Linked DNA regions of Homo sapiens: region 2 is linked to region 1. The links come from fine-mapping of genetic effects on plasma protein levels. Region 1 holds a variant in brackets. A gene starts in the other region. All regions are shown on one strand. Distances are between the middles of the regions.

Region 1 (8,337 bases):
CTGACAAAGAGGTCACTGTGGCCCATCTTCTCCGGACCCACGTGACTTGGTCACCACAGAAAACAATTACAGATATTGGAGGACTTTAAAACATCCTAGAAGTTTAGCAGCTCATCCTAAGCCGCAGAATATCTGTGCGTAATGTCCACCATTTCCTTCGGTTGTACACCCCCTCAGTTAAGCCAGGAGGATGCCTCTCTTCTCAGTGGAATATCATACATCAATGTGTAGAAACGTTTGTTGTGCCGGCAAGTAAATGACAGAAGGGACATTGATAGAATTGGGAAACAAATTGGAATATGATTTGGTATCGCTCCCACGGAAGATAAATTTGCAGAATGTACTCAAATTAGAAGCATTAAATAAATGTTGTAATGTAAAAATGGCACATCCTCCTCTCTACACTATAGAAATATCTGCACAAGTGTCCAAAGATATGTGTACAAGAATAGTGGAGATTGCGGCATCATTTGTAATCCTAAAGCCATGAAACCCACCTCATTTCAAAAACATCTTGAAAAGGGTTAAATCATGCACAAACAGAGGAAGAAATGCTGTTTTCACAAACAATGGCGAGGATCACCATGAGGATGACTGATTCCACTGGTCACATTATTGATAGAGGAATTACTTAAACCCAGGCACATCCGGGGACAGAATACTACTGTAATAGGTCTCCTATTATTAAACATGAAAAACTAGAGGCACTTTACTCCCCCAAGTCTTCCATGGGAGCAAAGAACATTTTTATCACACCAGAAGTGAGTTCCTGTCTAAGGTCTCTGGGATTCTTGAGTTTGACAGGTACAAGGCACCATGGGCCTTGCCAAGCCTCAGACCTAAGAAGGTGGGGAAGAGGACATGTGTGTCTCCTGATTAGGCTGGAGTTGATTGTATATCAACAGAAATGGGTTAAAACAACAAAGCGAGGAGTCCCTGGTTGGGCTCGGACCACCAGCCTTTCTGTTAACAGCCAAACGCGCTGATTGCGCAACAGAGACCGCTGCTACTGATTCTACCGGGCGCTACGTGCAGGGCACACTCACCAAACTCTCCCCATCCCTTTTGTCCTGAGGGCCTGCCCCTCAGGAGGGAAAACCGGAGACATTAGAGCGGTGAGTCGCGCTGATCACGTTGCACACCCGCGGGTTGGGAGATTCTGGAGCCAGAAGGACAGCCGAATGGCCTTCGCCCGCCCTGCCCCTCGCCTGCTTCAGAAGCCCCCGGAAACGCCCCAGTCTGCGACCCGGGCCCGAGCCGCCTGGGGGCCCAAGGGAAGCTGAATGCCCGGTGGGCTCCCAGGATGGCTCTTCCAGTTCTTTGCGCCGCCTTCACCCCGTGAGGGAGCCTGTGCCCACACTGCCCAATCGCTTTAGGGGCCGCTGCAGAGCTTCCGCTGCCATCTTCGGATCCTGTGTCCGCAGGCGGGCTCCACCAGGGCAGGGATGGTGGTGAGAGTTCCTCGTGATCCCCTCGCAGGGAGCAGGGTCTGCCATTCACCAGGGCGCAGGACTAAGACTCGTCGAGTGAATCCATTGTCGCCTTTAACTTTTAGTCCTTTGAAGAGTCCTGAGAATGTAAATCATGAACTATTTTTCTGTGGGGAAGTTTTGTTTTGTTTTGTTTTGCGACAGGGTCTCACTTGGTCCCCCAGGCTGGAGTGCAGTGGTGCAAACAAGGCTCACTGCAGCCTCGACCTCCCGGGGCCAAGTGATCTTCTTGCCTCAGCCCCCAAGTAGCTGAGACGACAGGCGAGCGCCACCACGCCCGGCTAATTTTTGTATTTTTTGTAGATACAGGATTTCGACATGTTGCCGGGGCTCGTCACGAAGGGGAAGTAGGTTCTTTTTAAAAAGCATTTTTTCCGATTGCTTTATCGGGCATCCTGTGGGGCGCGCAAGCGGCGAGGCCTCCAGTGGCCTCTCTTGCCACTCTTAGGCAGGGAGCTGCGGGGACTCAGCTGCACTGTTTTTGGGTGCCTGTCTTGCGCAGGAGGCCGGAGCCGGGCAAGGGGTGAATCCAACAGGGAATTGCGAGGAGGAGGGCAAGGAAGTCGGTAGAGGCGTGGACCAGGAAGAAGAAACTTTCCAGTAGCTTTGTGCAGCGGTAAGGACTGCACAAGGGAGAGATGAGAAGTGTTTTTTTTATTGTAGCAGAATGGGGAAGAAAGGGGGGAAAAACGGAGAGACACCAAGAACGAACGAAATCTACGCGGACCCTTAGGTCTCCAAAAAGGAAGCAGCCCTGCATTACGTTTAAACAAAGAGCCCGGCGCCCTTCAGCTCCTGTGGCTTGCGGTGATCGTATTGTGGTTAGTACTCTGCGCTGTGGCCCCAGCAGCCTTGTCTCCAATCCGAGTCATGGCCACATCCATTCTAGGGTGTAGTGCTCTTCTTTCCCTTTCGCCTCCAGTCTCAGCCTAGGCTGAGCCTCTGACCTGCGGCTAGAAAGGTCACAACTTTCCTGTGGCTTAGGAACTCCCGGTAGTGTTGAGAATAGAAGGAACCCCTACGCTGCATGCCTAGGGGTCCGGTTATCTTGAAAGACTTTTGCCTCCTCTCTGAGCAAGTACAACACCCAAAAGATGAGATGCCCCCTCTCAGTCAGCCTTATTGGAATCTTTTACTGTTGACATGATATGGCTGTACCCGCTGTTCTGACTCAGATATTTCAAGAATCCGTGGGGCCTTTTCAGGCCAAATCAGAAATGAACAAGAGAAGATGAGAGTTCACACTCCAACTGGGTATTTTAAGTAAAACCTAACGAATACAGTAAAATCTAAAGTTAATGACATTCTCCAACCCCAATTTTTAATTTTGTTTTTATTTATTTATTTTTTGCTACCAATAAATGACTGAAGTATAATCCGCAGAGACCAAAGTGCACCAATCTTAAGTGCGTGGCCCAGTACATTTTGACAAAAAAAACCATCACCTAGATCAAGTTACAGCACATTTTCAACAGACCAAAAGGTCGTGAGAACCCCTTTTCAGTCAATCTTCACCCCATCCCCACTTAGGCAATCACTATTTGATTTCTATCTCTGTGGTATACTTTTACTTCTTGTAGAAATCACGTAAAGGACTATACTGATTTTGCCTGTGTTTTTCTTTTTTTAAATGCAACAATTGTTATGAGATGCTTCCATTTTATGACATGTATCTCAGCTCTTTGCTGTTATTAATGAGTGTTATTCCAACATGTGAGTATACTACAGTTGATAGACAATTGGGATATTTCTAGTTTGGGCTATTGTGAATAAGGTGTTTACAAATATTCTATTATGGGTCTCTTTATGGGCCTGTGCCTTCAATTCTGTTGAGCATGAACCCAGCAATGGAATGGCTGGGTCATGAAGTGGGTGTATTTTTAACTGTATTAGAAACTATCAGACAGTATTTTAGAATGGTGGCACTATTGTATTCTCTTTTATTTTGTTTTGTTTTATTTTATTTTATTTTTGAGACGGTCTCACTTTGTCACCCAGGCTGGAGTGCAATTGTACAATCTCTGCTCACTACAACCTCTGCCTCCCGGGTTCAAGCAATTCTCCTACTTCAACCTCAACCTCCCAAGTAACTGGGATTACAGGTGCCTGTCACCACGCCCAGCTAATTTTTGTATTTTTAGTAGAGATGGGGTTGCACCACATTGGCCAGGCTGATCTCAAACTCCTGACCTCAAGTGATCCACCTAGCTCGGCCTCCCAAAGTGCTGGGATCTCAGGCGTGAGCCACCACTCCCACCAATACTATTGCATTCTCTTGCCAGCAACAAGAGTTACAGTTGCTCTGCATTTTTATAAGCCAGTGGCTTTCCCTGTCTCTTAAATGTTACCCATTCTGATGAGTGTGTTATGGAGTATCATGGCATTTTAAATTTGTGTTTCCTGAATGAGTAATAATGCCAAGAATCCTTTCTTATGCAATTTGGCCATTAAGAAATTCTCTTTGGTAAACAAACACTGTTCAAGTGTTTTGCCCATTTTACATTGGCTTGACTCTTTTCTTCCTCCCCACATTTATACACAAACTTTTCTATTTGAATAGAAAAGTTGAGAAGATAGTACACAGAATGGAGTAAAGAGGATGGAATGGGTTTTTGGAAACCAATTCACACTTTAAAGTTGTTTTAACATCCTCCATCCCCAAAGAACAATGTATGTTTTCTGAAGACATCTCCTTATTGAAATATGCAGAGAAAGTGTGAGATAAAAGAGCATATACTAAACTCCTCAGAACGTGTTTCTGGAAGTGGACAGGGAAATGGGAGTGGGATAAACA[G/A]AGAAAAGAAGGAAAGACAGTAAGGGCCTTGCTCAAAGCAGCCACCATAATGTGCCCTGAGCTAAGGTACATGATTACCTTCTCCCTGTGCACCTGAGATCTAAGAAAACATATTAACTAATCAGGGACATGGATTTCAAAAACACTACAGAAAAACAGAAAATTTACCCAGACAGACCAGTCTAGTTAAGAAAGGCAGGAAGAGATTTTATAAACAAAGCAAAAACGCAGAAATCATACAATGAGGTGGTGGGAATGAGACGTCATCTCCAATATAATACTAATTGCTGCAAATTACAATGCACTTAAGTCTCTCAGATGGGATAGAAAAGGAAATGCCAGCTCTAATGGTTTAATGGGCAGAAAAGGGTAAAATATTCAAAGAAGTGCACATTATTATATATATGTATATATGTGTATATATATGTATATATGTATATATATGTATATATGTATATATATGTATATATATATACATATATATATAATTTTTTTTTGAGATGCAGTCTAGCTCTGTCACCAGGCTGGAGTGCAGTGGCACGTTTTCAGCTCACTGCAACCTCTACCTCCTACGTTCAAGTGATTCTTCTGCCTCAGCCTCCTGAGTTGCTGGGACTACAGTCACAAGCCACCATGCCCAGCTAATTTTTGTATTTTTAGTAGAGACAGGGTTTCACCTTACTGGCCAGGCTGGTCTCGAACTCTTGACCTCATGATCCACCCACCTCCGCCTCCCAAAGTGCTGAGATCAGACATGTGAATGACTGCGCCAGGTCAAAAGCAGTGCACATTATCTTAGCAAGCTAATGCAGAAACAGGAAACCAAACACTGAAGTTTTTATCGTTTCTTAAAGGCCAAGTGTGAACTATTGTGACAGCTTAGTCTGAGAGTTCCAGATACATAGCATGGTTTTTGCCCATTTGCTGGGTCTTTCCTCTCACATCCTAAGTGCTGAAAAGACACATGTGGCAGGGAAAGAGAGTTTCTTGAGCTTGCCACAGTGGTGGAGGCATATAGGTCATGATTGGCCACCACTAGAGTACAGGCACAAAATCTGGTTGCTTCTCTCACATGAAACAAAAGGCATCTACCACTGATGTTGGAGCAAGGAACCCTTCCAACCCTGGCCTATAGCTGGCCCCAGGTATAGGCCAGCTGCTGAGGTAGAGTTAGACACAAAAGCTGTCTATACTGGACAAGGGAAGACTTGCAATCAATCATTTGAGTTGGTTGCAGACCCTTTCCTTTAATGAGGAAAAACTGTGATGTGGGTACAAAGTTCCAACATCCAGAAAGATTGGCCTTGTCCTTAAGGATATTATGTTGATTGGATTTCTCTCAACCTCCTTCAGTTGTGTTTAGCATTATTAAAATTAAGTGACATTCACTTGGATGAAGTGGTAATAAAAACAAGCTGTGAGAATTTCTAGTGATTTTTGATACCAAGCCTTGTATCACTGTTGGGCTTTCATGTGTGTACTTGAAAACAAAACATGTAAATTGTTGCACTGGTTTGAAGATTTTAATGGTGAAAGCAACCTAATCAGTTATGAGTACCACATCGAGAAACCAACCTTGGAAATATGTGATTATGCTCTTTTAAAATAGCTGAAAAGAAAGATGGGTGTGGTGGCTCATTCTTATAATTTCAGCACTTTGGGAGGCTGAGTCAGGCAGATCACTGAAGGACAGGAGTTCAAGGCCTGGCCAACATGGCAAAACATCTTTACTAAAAACACAAAAATCAGCTGGGCATGGTGGTACACAGCTGTAATTCCAGTTACTCAGGAGGCTGAGGCAGGAGAATCCTTTGAACCTGGAACTTGAAGGCAGAGGTTGCAGTGAGCTGAGATCCTGCCACTGTACCCCAACCTGGGTGACAGAGGGAGATTCTGTCTCAAAATAAATAAATAAATAAAATAGCCAAAAAAAAACTGACTGTGTGTTTATTCTCACTTTGTTCTTGTTTTGTTGTATAATATTTAAATAAAAGGAGATTATTTATCCTCATACTGAATTTCCAAAACTGATATTTGCATTTAGTATTTTGTTAAATGATGGAGAGAAAATTTAATTGTCTTACTTTGAAAAGTTTGGCATAGGTTCTGTCACATTTTTGATGCTTTCGGTCACAGTTCTGTCATTAGAATGCTGGCAATTAGTTACATGCAAGGAGTATCCTAACCACTTTAATACGATGGTTTGAAGTGCTGCAGGCAGTAACTACTGGACAGCAGATCATAGTGTTTTTATCGGTGACACGTTAGAGAGAAATAGAACTTTCTGCAGTACAAATGTCCTATTAACTAATCCTTATGCTATTAGCTTACAGGGCTTTGTCTCCTGGGTCTGAAAAAGGCAGCTTCTCCTTCTAAATCCTGAATATTGACACCAATTAATGCCTTGTCTTCAGACTCTGGGGAAGATGACAAACAAAATGAACTGCTTTCACAAGACACAGAACCAGAAATTGAAACCATTCAATCCCTTTAGGCCCAACAATCCCACATGTCCCGTTTTCCACCTCATGCCCCCTCTTCCTCTAGACAGAAGAGGTGGGCACGTGAGAATTGTAGGCTGGAGTTTGAGGGATAAGTTTAGTTCAGAGACTTTCTTTTCTTTCCCTTTCTTTCTTTTCTTTTCTTTCTTCTTTCTTTCTTTTTTTTTTTTTTTTTTTTTTTTTTTTGTATTTTTGGTAGACACAATGTTTCACCATATTGCCCAGGCTAGACTCAAACTCCTAAGTTCAAGTGATCCACACACTCTGGCCTCTCAAATTCAGAGATTTTCTATAAATTAGACATTACAGTCAGGAGCACACTGATGCAAGGCCAACATCTGGGCTCGTGTATTGCAATATCAGGGTCTTCTAGAGCATTTATCTACTCCTTAATACAAAAGTATAAAAGGTTATGAAAGGTTTTTGGAACTCTTACCTCATGGTCAAACTGACTTTTTTTTTTAATGCCTCCTTATAATCTTTTTACCAAAGGTATATTTTAGTTTTCTTATACACCTTGCACATAAACTGTTTCTTTAATAGTACTCAGGAGGCCTTATTACTTTTAAATTATACAACTTTGTTTGCATAAAATTTTTTTATAACTTTTTTTCTTTCACGACTTCCACAGACAATTTTTCAACATGTCTCAACTTTCTGACTTATTACAAACACTTTTTTCTTTAAACAACCAGTTAATTTATTTCAGGACAAGAATTTACCACATAACTTTTTGTTTGTATAAATTCTGCTTCCTCCTTTTTTTTCCTTTTTTAAAGTGAACTTTCTTTATGTCTTTGGATAGACTGTCTAAGGCCACAAGATTAGAAGTTACCATAATACATGTTACACTGTTAACTTTTAGCAAACTTCACTTTTGTAGAAAACCTTGTAAGTTTGGGATTTCAATTGTCCTTTGCTATTAATAAGACCTTGTTTAGTCTAAATTAACTTAGAATTGGTATAGATGGCCTCTTTTTCTCTCTGATGGTCTTTACTTGCCTCTGCCAGCTGCTTATGCTGCTGTTCTCTTAACTACTGCGGGCAGGGAAAGGGGGTCTAAAACCAGCTGTAACTGTCCATGTACGGAAACTGGTCTGGGTGCCTTGGCTTAGAGGTTACCTTATGCCATACCTTTGAAACAAGGGACCTGTCCAGGCTTCCTTCTGATGGCCAACCTACATCTAATGCTGGCCAGTCTATTTCACATAAAGTTCTAAGTTTTTCTGGAGTCATAGTGACTCCATAGTCTCCATTGAATCCTTTCTTGAAATTTTTTAACATAGTTCCTAGTGGGGGGGGCTTATTTGTGCCTGACCCATGTTTCTTCAAGACAAAACACCACGCTCACACCACACGCCACACACCACAAAACAAAAAACAGGTAAAAAGGGCACACACACACTTCTGCAGTTTACACCAAACCAAAATCAAAACCAAAATCAGAGTATCCAGAAATCCAAGCCAGGTCAAAACCAAAACCGAAGTATCAGGCAATCTAAGTCAAGTCAAAAACAAAAACCAAAGTGCCGGTACAGGCACATTGTGGGTG
Region 2 (8,337 bases), 28 Mb before region 1:
GAACTAGATCAATGCAAATTTTGTGGGCAAAATAGAATTTCTGTGGGTGTGATATTTTTAAGATGTATTGTAAGGCTGCTCTGAACCATCCAAGCATATCCCACTGAATTTAAACATTCTCTAAAGGTCCTGAAGTCAGCAACTACAATCCAGGTGAACCAAAAGTTGCTCCTCTATGTCATAGAAGCCTACAGGAGAGGCAGTAGGGTGGGAATGGAGCAGAGAGATCCCAAGAAGTTATGGGTAAATATTTTTTAAATCTAAACATTCAGAAAAATAAGAGAGACTAGGAATCACTCTCCTCCTCCTCTCCACCACACCAAAAAAAAAGGAATAATAAGAAAGTGAAAGGAAAAATAGTTTTAGGTTAAATTTCATCACCATCTGAAAGAAAATTACTCCGATTTTGTTTAAGCAAGAGAAGAATTCAGCTGAGAAATTATCTAGCAGGCAGCAAAATCAGGGAGTCACTTCCCATTGCAAAGCAAAAGAAAACAAGGAGCAAGAGGATGGTCCTGGATAGCTGTTTAGACAATCAGACATACTGCTAACATCTCCTTGCCTTAGAAACTCCGTGATGTTTAAATTAACAATTGGCCACAAGCCAAACACAGGAACACTCAAAAGTTTAGAAGGGTGTGCTGCAACTGGTACCTTAGCAAAACACAATAATAAATTAAGAGGATTCAAGAAGCCTTCACTGTAGACTCTAAGAAGATTTAAGATTTGTACCGAGAAACGGCTTCTAAATCTCTTCTACTGCATTAGTTTAGCATCTAAAGAACACCTGTCTAAAAATCAAAATATCTAAATCCTATCCTTTGAGTCAACTTGACTAACACTCAACTTGACTACCTAAAAGCTAGCTAATAATCGCAGCACCTCAGCAGAGCAGAGGTGGAGGGCATAGTTTTATGCACTGAGATCCTATAATAAAAGAAGCCCTATGTGTCAGAGTAATCCCATTTCTGATATCATATTATTTAATACTTAATTTTTCAAATCACTTTACAATTATATTTATTATTCCCTACAATTCTCTAAAGCAGGTTATTCCTTTAGTCCTGCTTCATAGGTGAGGAGACTACATATCATGAAGATTAAGTTATTTACCAAAACAAGTTAATGATAGACCAAGGATTATTACCCTCAGACTGTCTCATTGATCATACTCCTCTCTATCCTAAAGCTACACTTAAAGCTTTCACTCAAAGAAAAAGGAAAAGCAAAAACACCATCATATATGCTCTTTATTAAATGCTTCAGAAACAACGGCTCTGCTTCATCACTACAAAGCCTCCTGGTCCACTTCTGAAATTCTTAGTGACCTAGACGTGTACGAAATTTGAACTTTCCAAGAAGTATCTAGTTGGTGCTGAACAACCCAGTACTATTTTCGGGTGATAAATAACCTTGTTCTCTTTTTAAACATCTGCGATTGACATGTCGACTGACTGTTAACAATGAACAAAGACCATATTTTTCTGAAGCTCATCATCTTCCTAACCTTTTCTTTGAAAACAGATGTAGTTCATGTACTAGTTTTTTGGTGAAGGTAAAAATCTTTATTCAGATTAGGCTCAGAAAAAGAAGGGGCTGCTTTCCGTTCAACAAATATGCACAAGACAGCATCCCACTGGGAGCATCAATCTCAGAAGCAGTAAAACACAGCCTCGGCCCTGAAAGGACTTTCTGAACACCTTTGGAGTGTCATCCGTTTAATATACATTATTTTAATTAATCCTATTAGCTGGATAATTTCTTTCCCATTTTATTGGTGAGTTCATATAGCAGAGCTGGATTTGAATCCAGGATTACAGAGCAGGGCTCCAAAGCCCAAGTTATTTCCACTAAAGGGTCTGAAGAAATGTAGAATCTAAAAGTGTGGGTGGGATGGGGAAGATATGATTTGATTCCCTTTCCTTGGTCCAACCGTGTTAGAAACATCCAACCATAAAGAAGCTTTCTAAGGAAGCCCTTTGAATTAACGTATCCACTTTTTCTCACCCGCCCGTGCCCCACCCCCAGCCATGCCAAAGGAGCAGCAAATGCTGCTGCCAGGTTGGAGGAATTGGTGATCGTCACACCACATTCCTGGGTCTGGACACAGCCTGAAACAGCAGCAGAGCTCCGCGCCTCGGAAAGAATAACAGCAGTTGAGATTTTTAAATCATGTGCCTCAGCATGCAGCCACACCAGTTGCCCTACTTCTCCTGCCTCCACCTTTCAAAGACGCGAGCAGCACACACGGCTCCCCCGGACTTTCGGTGGGGTTGGAGTGTCAAAACTCAGGCGCGCCGCAAAACCCCGTCCCCATCCAAACCAAGCCCACACACCCGGCCCATGTGCCGCCCCCTGGCAAAGGCGAGGCTGGCTGCGACGGTGCAGGCCGTTTGGCTTGGCGGCCCTGCCCCCGCTCTCCACGCCAGAATCTGGCATTCCTTCGCTCAGCCCCTCCGAGGCCCGCCGTCGGCTCTCGCTCGACCCCAAGAAACGCGGAACCTGAAGGGCAAAACTGCCCACCTCCCTGCACCCTGGCACTACGAAAAAGGAGTTTCTGAGACTTGCTGCCGGCCTCCCTCCTGCCGAGGAGGCGTGTAAGGGGTCCCGGGCCGCGGGGAGCAGAGGCGGCGGGGAACCCCGGCGGTTGGCGGGGCACCACGGGAGGGGCCCCCGGCGATGTCCAAACTCTTGGGAACCCAGCGAGTGGCCTCGCTCCGCGCCGGCGGCCGAGCCTGGCCTTCCCACACAGAGAAGGACCGAGGGGGAGAAGGGTCGCCCCAGGTGGCAGCCCCGGGCGCCGCGGACAGCGCCCCTCAGCCCGATACTCACCATGCGCGGGGGCCGCGCAGCACAGCCAGAGCGCCAGCAGCGCCCACAGCAGAGCGGGGCGCAGGGCGGGCATCTTCTCGGTCGCCTCCTCCTCCGCCGCCGCCGCCGCCGCCTGGGCAGATCCACATGGGGAGGGGGTCCCGATAGAGGAGCCCCACTCTCTCCTCCCCTCCTCCTGCTTCAAAGGCTCAGGCCCTGGCGCTACGCTCCGAAGCCCAGGCGCAAATGCCTCGACTCCCCGCGCCCCGAGTCCGCCGCTCCTCGGCCGCCGCCTCAGCCGCCGCCCGAAGTTTGGCTGAAACTTTCTCGGGTGTGCAACGAAGCAGCCTCGTGTGTCCTTCCGCCTCAGCCGCCTCCTCCCACCGCAAGCCCCGCCCCACTGTCGCCGCGGCCTCGGCCCCGCCGCCTTGGGCACCCAGGGGTTTCCCGCAGGAAGAAGCGCCGGCCCGAGCTCCGCGCGGAGGGATCTACTACGAGTCACTGGCCCCGTCCGCATCCTTCTCCAGCGGCCCCGGGGGCCGCCGCGCCTTAACTCGATCAGGGCTGCAGCGGCTCGCTGGCTTGACCAGTGCAGAAGGGGCGTGGGGGTGAGGGGGGTGGGGTAGGACTCTGAACTTCAAGCACTGGAGTTTGCCGGGATCGTGAACTTGCAGGGAGAGGCGGTCCTCATCCAGTGAGGTCTGTATCGCCACCTACACCCACACATCCACACACTGCTTTGCTAGCTAGAGGAATGCTCTGGAGTAGGACCAGTGCTGTCAAAGAAGGAAAGTGGGCCAAGGCGCCAAAGTCCATTAAAAAGGAATAGAGCCATCACGGAGTGGTGCTGCCCCATTCATTCATTCATTTGTTCATCCGTGTAGCGAATATTTCTTAAGTGCCTTACTTTGCGTAGCTGTGTGCTTGGCAGTGGGATGATACCAAAGATGCACAAGCAACTTTGAGTACCAAGACTTTGCCGCTGTGGGCTGGGGGATTCAGGGAAGGCTTTCCCAGAGGAGCTGGGATGAAAGCAGGATCTTGAAAGGTCAGTAAAATTTGTATAAGACAAGGAGACCAGCTAAGCTAAGGATATTCGTTGTAACACTGTAATAGCAAAACCTTGAAAACAACATAAATGCCCACCCTTAGAGGAATGGATGAATAATGTATGGTATATTTATAAAATGAAATGCAACACAGTAATTGAAAAGACTATAGCTATTTATGTCAATAGGGATAAATCTTAAAAACTAAATGATAGTGAAAAAACTAATCACAGAGGGAGACAAAGTATACCATTTATGTATATTTTTTTCAAGACAATACTACACATTATCTGTGGATGCATATATATAGATATAGATATTAAGAGACTATAACCAGAATAGTAGTTACTTCCAGGGCAGGAGAGTAGGGGGTGTGATCAAACCTGGGTACAAGTGGGCTTCTAAGAAAAGAGCTAAAAGTAAGAACAGCAACAATAGTTGTATGGACATATCATTCCAGGAAAGAGCCCTCGTGAAAGCAAAGGTACAGTCAAAAGAGTAAGTAAATGAGTTCTGTCTCTGTTAGCAGTGAGAGGAGTCAAGGACGGAAAGGGGGTTGGGACCAAATTATGCAGCCTTGAATGGCAAGCTGAAAGGGTGGGGAGGCAGCTACCTCTTAGGTCACATAAAACTATTGAAAGTTTTTGAACAGAGTTGAGATTGATGGAAAGGAAGATTGCTCTGATAATTCTGTAGAAAATTGATTGTTGGGGGAGCAAGAGGTGAACTGGAGCCCCAGGACCAGTCAAGAGTTGGTGAACAGTCCAGGCACAAATTTAAGAAGACCTGAACTAATAAGGTAGATTTCAGAAGGAATGAATCCGAGACAATGTTAAAGAAACAGAAAAAAAAAATGGAGGTGTGACTAATTGGATGTGGGAGTTTACAATCCTGTTGGGATGGGAAATCCTACCCATAGAACCTCTCCCTGACTCCTATAGGATAAAATTCAAACTTCTAAACATGGTACATACAAGGCCTTTTCGTCATTGGGCCCCATCTCCTGTCCTCCCTGCCCCTGTTGTGAACTTCACACAATAACAGTATTGACTAACTTGAGATTCCCCCAAACATATCTTGCTGTTTCTGTCCCTGTATCTTTTGTTCCTTTGGCTTGGAATGACTCCTGTAGTCCCCTTCCCTCCTCCTCTTAATGAACTTCTAATCATAATTCATCCTTCAGTCCAAAGAAGGCTTTGCCGACACCGCAATAAATTCCTCCCCCTAACAGACAGTCCCTCCACTGTCTTCCACTGCCGCTTCTTTATCTTAACACCGATACTTATTTTTCACACAGGACTCTTTGTATTTCTGTGTTCTCAACTAAGTTTTGAGGTCCTCATGGGCAAAGACCACAGCCTATTAATCCCCAGTGTCTATCACATAATAGATGTTGAACTAGAATGTGAAACAACACTAAGCAAGTACAAGTCAGTATGGGCATAGACCTATGAAGTTCCAAAACTGCATGTTAACAAGCACTTTAGGTAAGCAAGTACCATTAGTGAAAGTAGTCACATTGAAATACTGGAAACCCTTTTCAAAAATAATGTAGTCAAAATATTTTTGGAATTTGTCTTGTGCAAGTATGTTCAGAGAAAGATAACATTATTTTTCAGTTGTTTACCCACAGTGTTACCAGTTCGATCTTCCTCTTTACTCACTAAAGATAATTCATAGTGACTTGGCTGCATACAAATTTTAAAAATCACCTGCAAAGATAAGTTTTGTCACTATTAAAATATATTCAGAAGAATATAAGATAGTTATCCCCAAAGAGCAACTCTAGAAGCGACTGTAGCTATGACAACATTATTAAAATAAATGTGCAGGCCAGGCGTGGCGGCTTATGTCATAATCCCAGCACTTTGGGAAGCTGAGGTGGGCAGATCACCTGAGGTCAGGAGTTTGAGACCAGCCTGGCCAACATGTTGAAAACCCGTCTCTACTAAAAATACCAAAAATTAGCCGGGCATGGTGGCGAGCACCTGTAATCCCAGCTACTCAGGAGACTGAGGCAGTAGAATCACTTGAACCCAGGAGGCAGAGATTGCAGTGAGCCAAGATCGTGCCACTGTACTCCAGCCTGGACAACAAGAGTGAAACTCCGTCTCAAAAAAAAAAAAAAAAAAAAAATAGGTATGCAGTTTCTCAAAGTAACCGTTTTAAAGAAAGCAGCTATTATGTTCACATATAACTTTTGTTGAATATGTTACAATATGAAAACTTACTGCATACATTCTGGTAAGGACAAGAGAAGTAAAGAGTAAATATGAATGGAAGTAAGGGAAAAATATGACTGAAGACATTTTTTAAAGATAAGTTTTAATGATAGAAAAATATGAATAAGGGCTACCAATTGTTTTAGTTTTAATCAAAACTAAAAATATACATCTATGTCTTTACTGATTTAAACTCACATAAAACTGCCTTCCAAAATAAATGCAGAATTGGGCACTTATTTGTTCTCATGTCTGTCCTCTCAGAGCCGATAAGCTGTAAAAAAAACTCTCAAAATAAAACTCTGTTTTATTTTCTGTTTTGCCTCGGTTTCTATCACATAAGTGCTCAATAATATATGTTTTACATAAATGCTGAATGAGGAACATATATATCTATATAAACTGGGGAACAATGCAAGACTGGAAGAATGTCTTGGTGTGTTGGAGAAGTTGAAGAAGAGATTGTGGGATAGCTATGACACATAGATTGAGCTACACCACGAATCTCTCCATGTAACCCAGGAACCCAAGGATATGTGATGAGATGTTTGTGGAAGCAGGAATTAAAAGGAAGATTTCTTTTAATAATGCCTTGCAGTTGCGCAGTGATTTAGACCTTCCAAAAACACTTTTAATTATATTATCTCATTTGATCCTCAAAACAATCGTGGGAAATAGGCACCCCAGTCATTATTATACCCATTTTGCAGATGAAGAAACTGAGATAGAGCTTTAAGTATCTTGCCCAAGGTTAAATAAGTAATTAGTGAGCTGAGACAAACCCCCCACTATTTCTGTCCTCTTACTCAGTCTCACTCCACTGTACCTTTGTGCAACAATGTGAAGCACATCCAAGATGATATTTAGTGTGGGGACCTCTGTGTAGAGGGACACCAGCTTCTTGTCACTTCCATGTTAGCACAGAACAAGCTGACCCACTGTAACTAGGAAACATAAACAAGTGAATAAATTCTTTTAATTTAAAATTTTTTTGAGAGCCTGTTCTCTACAAAGCACATACTAGGCTCTGCGGCAATGCAGAAATAAATAAAACCCAGTCCCTGTTCTTTGGAGATCACAGAGCAGTGAGGCAGGCCAACATACAAATAACATAACTACAACAGAGATAAAGCACAGGGATATGGGAAAGTAGAGAGCACTGGGATTAATTTTGAGTCCACTTTCCTCTCATCCAGTCCCCATCCTGAAAGATATGAACTGTGGTGGCCCACACAGCTGGACTGTAAGCCATGTGACAAGAGTCATTTCTTACCCCTTATTCATGTTTGTAAACTCCACAGTAGTTGGTTCTTTGCCTTGCACAGAGTATGTGCTCAATAAAGACCTACTTTCTGAAAGGTTCACAGAGTTCAGCCAAACACAGGACAAGTTCTAGAAGGCAAGAAGTTAACCTCAAGATTCAAACTAGCTCTGAGAATTAAGAACCAGCCAGACCCTTCCACTGAGCCTAGACCCAATTAATTACCTCTGCTCTAATTAAGGGAATCAGTAATGTAAGTAATTGTAATATGGGCGATATAGTTTGCCTGTGTCCCCACCCAATATCTTATTTTGAATTGTAATCCCCATGTGTCAAGGGAGAGACCAGGTGGAGGTAATTGAATCATGGGGGCGGTTTCTCCCATGCTGTTCTCCTGATAATGAGTGAGTTCATGAGATCTGATGGTTTTATGTGTTTGGCAGTTCCTCCTGCATTAATTTTCCTTCATGCTGCCTTATGAAGAAGGTACCTTGCTTCCCCTTTGCCTTCTGCCATGATTGTTAAGTTTCCTGAGGCCTTCCCAGCCATGCTAAACTGTGAGTCAGTTAACCTGTTTCCTTTATAAATTACCCAGTCTTGGGCAGTTCTTTACAGCACTGTGAAGACAGACTAATACAGTGGGCTTGTTGACATAGTTTTGCCCTTTTATGAATGTGATTATCTCAATTTTATTGATGTTAAGGAAGGACACAGTGGCCCACACCTGTAATCCCAACACTTTGGGAGTCCAAGGCAGAAGGATGGCTTGAGCCCAGGAGTTCAAGACCAGCCTGGGCCACAAAGTGAGACCCTGTCTCTACAAAAAATTAAAAAACTAACTGGGCATGGTGATGCATGTCTCTAGTCCCAGCTACTTGGGAGGCTGAGGTGGGAGGACCACTTGATCCCAGGAGGTTGAGGCTGCAGTGAACCATGTTACCACTGCTGCATTTCAGCTCGGGTGACAGAGCAAGACCCTGTCAAAAAAAAAAAA

Alleles and levels. Positions count from the first base shown, and alleles are read on the strand shown. Strength reflects both the effect of a copy and how common the allele is.
In carriers of allele G in region 1, the plasma level of the protein whose gene starts at base 3,161 in region 2 tends to be lower than with A alone (strong association).

Evidence for each region. PIP is the posterior inclusion probability: the model's chance that the variant is causal. The UK Biobank Pharma Proteomics Project read protein levels with antibody pairs (Olink). The fine-mapping took linkage between variants from a reference panel, not from the people measured, so its PIPs are less certain.
Region 2: it holds the start of NOTCH2, and the variant in region 1 is fine-mapped to the plasma level of the NOTCH2 protein (UK Biobank, PIP above 0.99).

Annotation. Positions count from the first base shown.
Region 1 is chr1:148,316,438-148,324,774 of GRCh38, forward strand. LOC105371225 (a long non-coding RNA gene) reads right to left here and starts at 979. Exons shown (of 5, transcript XR_007066561.1): 1 at 1-979. RefSeq lists an enhancer at 2,573-2,622. The variant G/A (reference allele first, on the strand shown) is at 4,285.
Region 2 is chr1:120,066,502-120,074,838 of GRCh38, forward strand. It overlaps NOTCH2 (notch receptor 2), which reads right to left and starts at 3,161. Exons shown (of 34, transcript NM_024408.4): 1 at 2,833-3,161. The coding sequence starts at 2,905. It overlaps LOC101929178 (a long non-coding RNA gene), which reads left to right and starts at 3,327. Exons shown (of 2, transcript XR_254374.4): 1 at 3,327-3,510.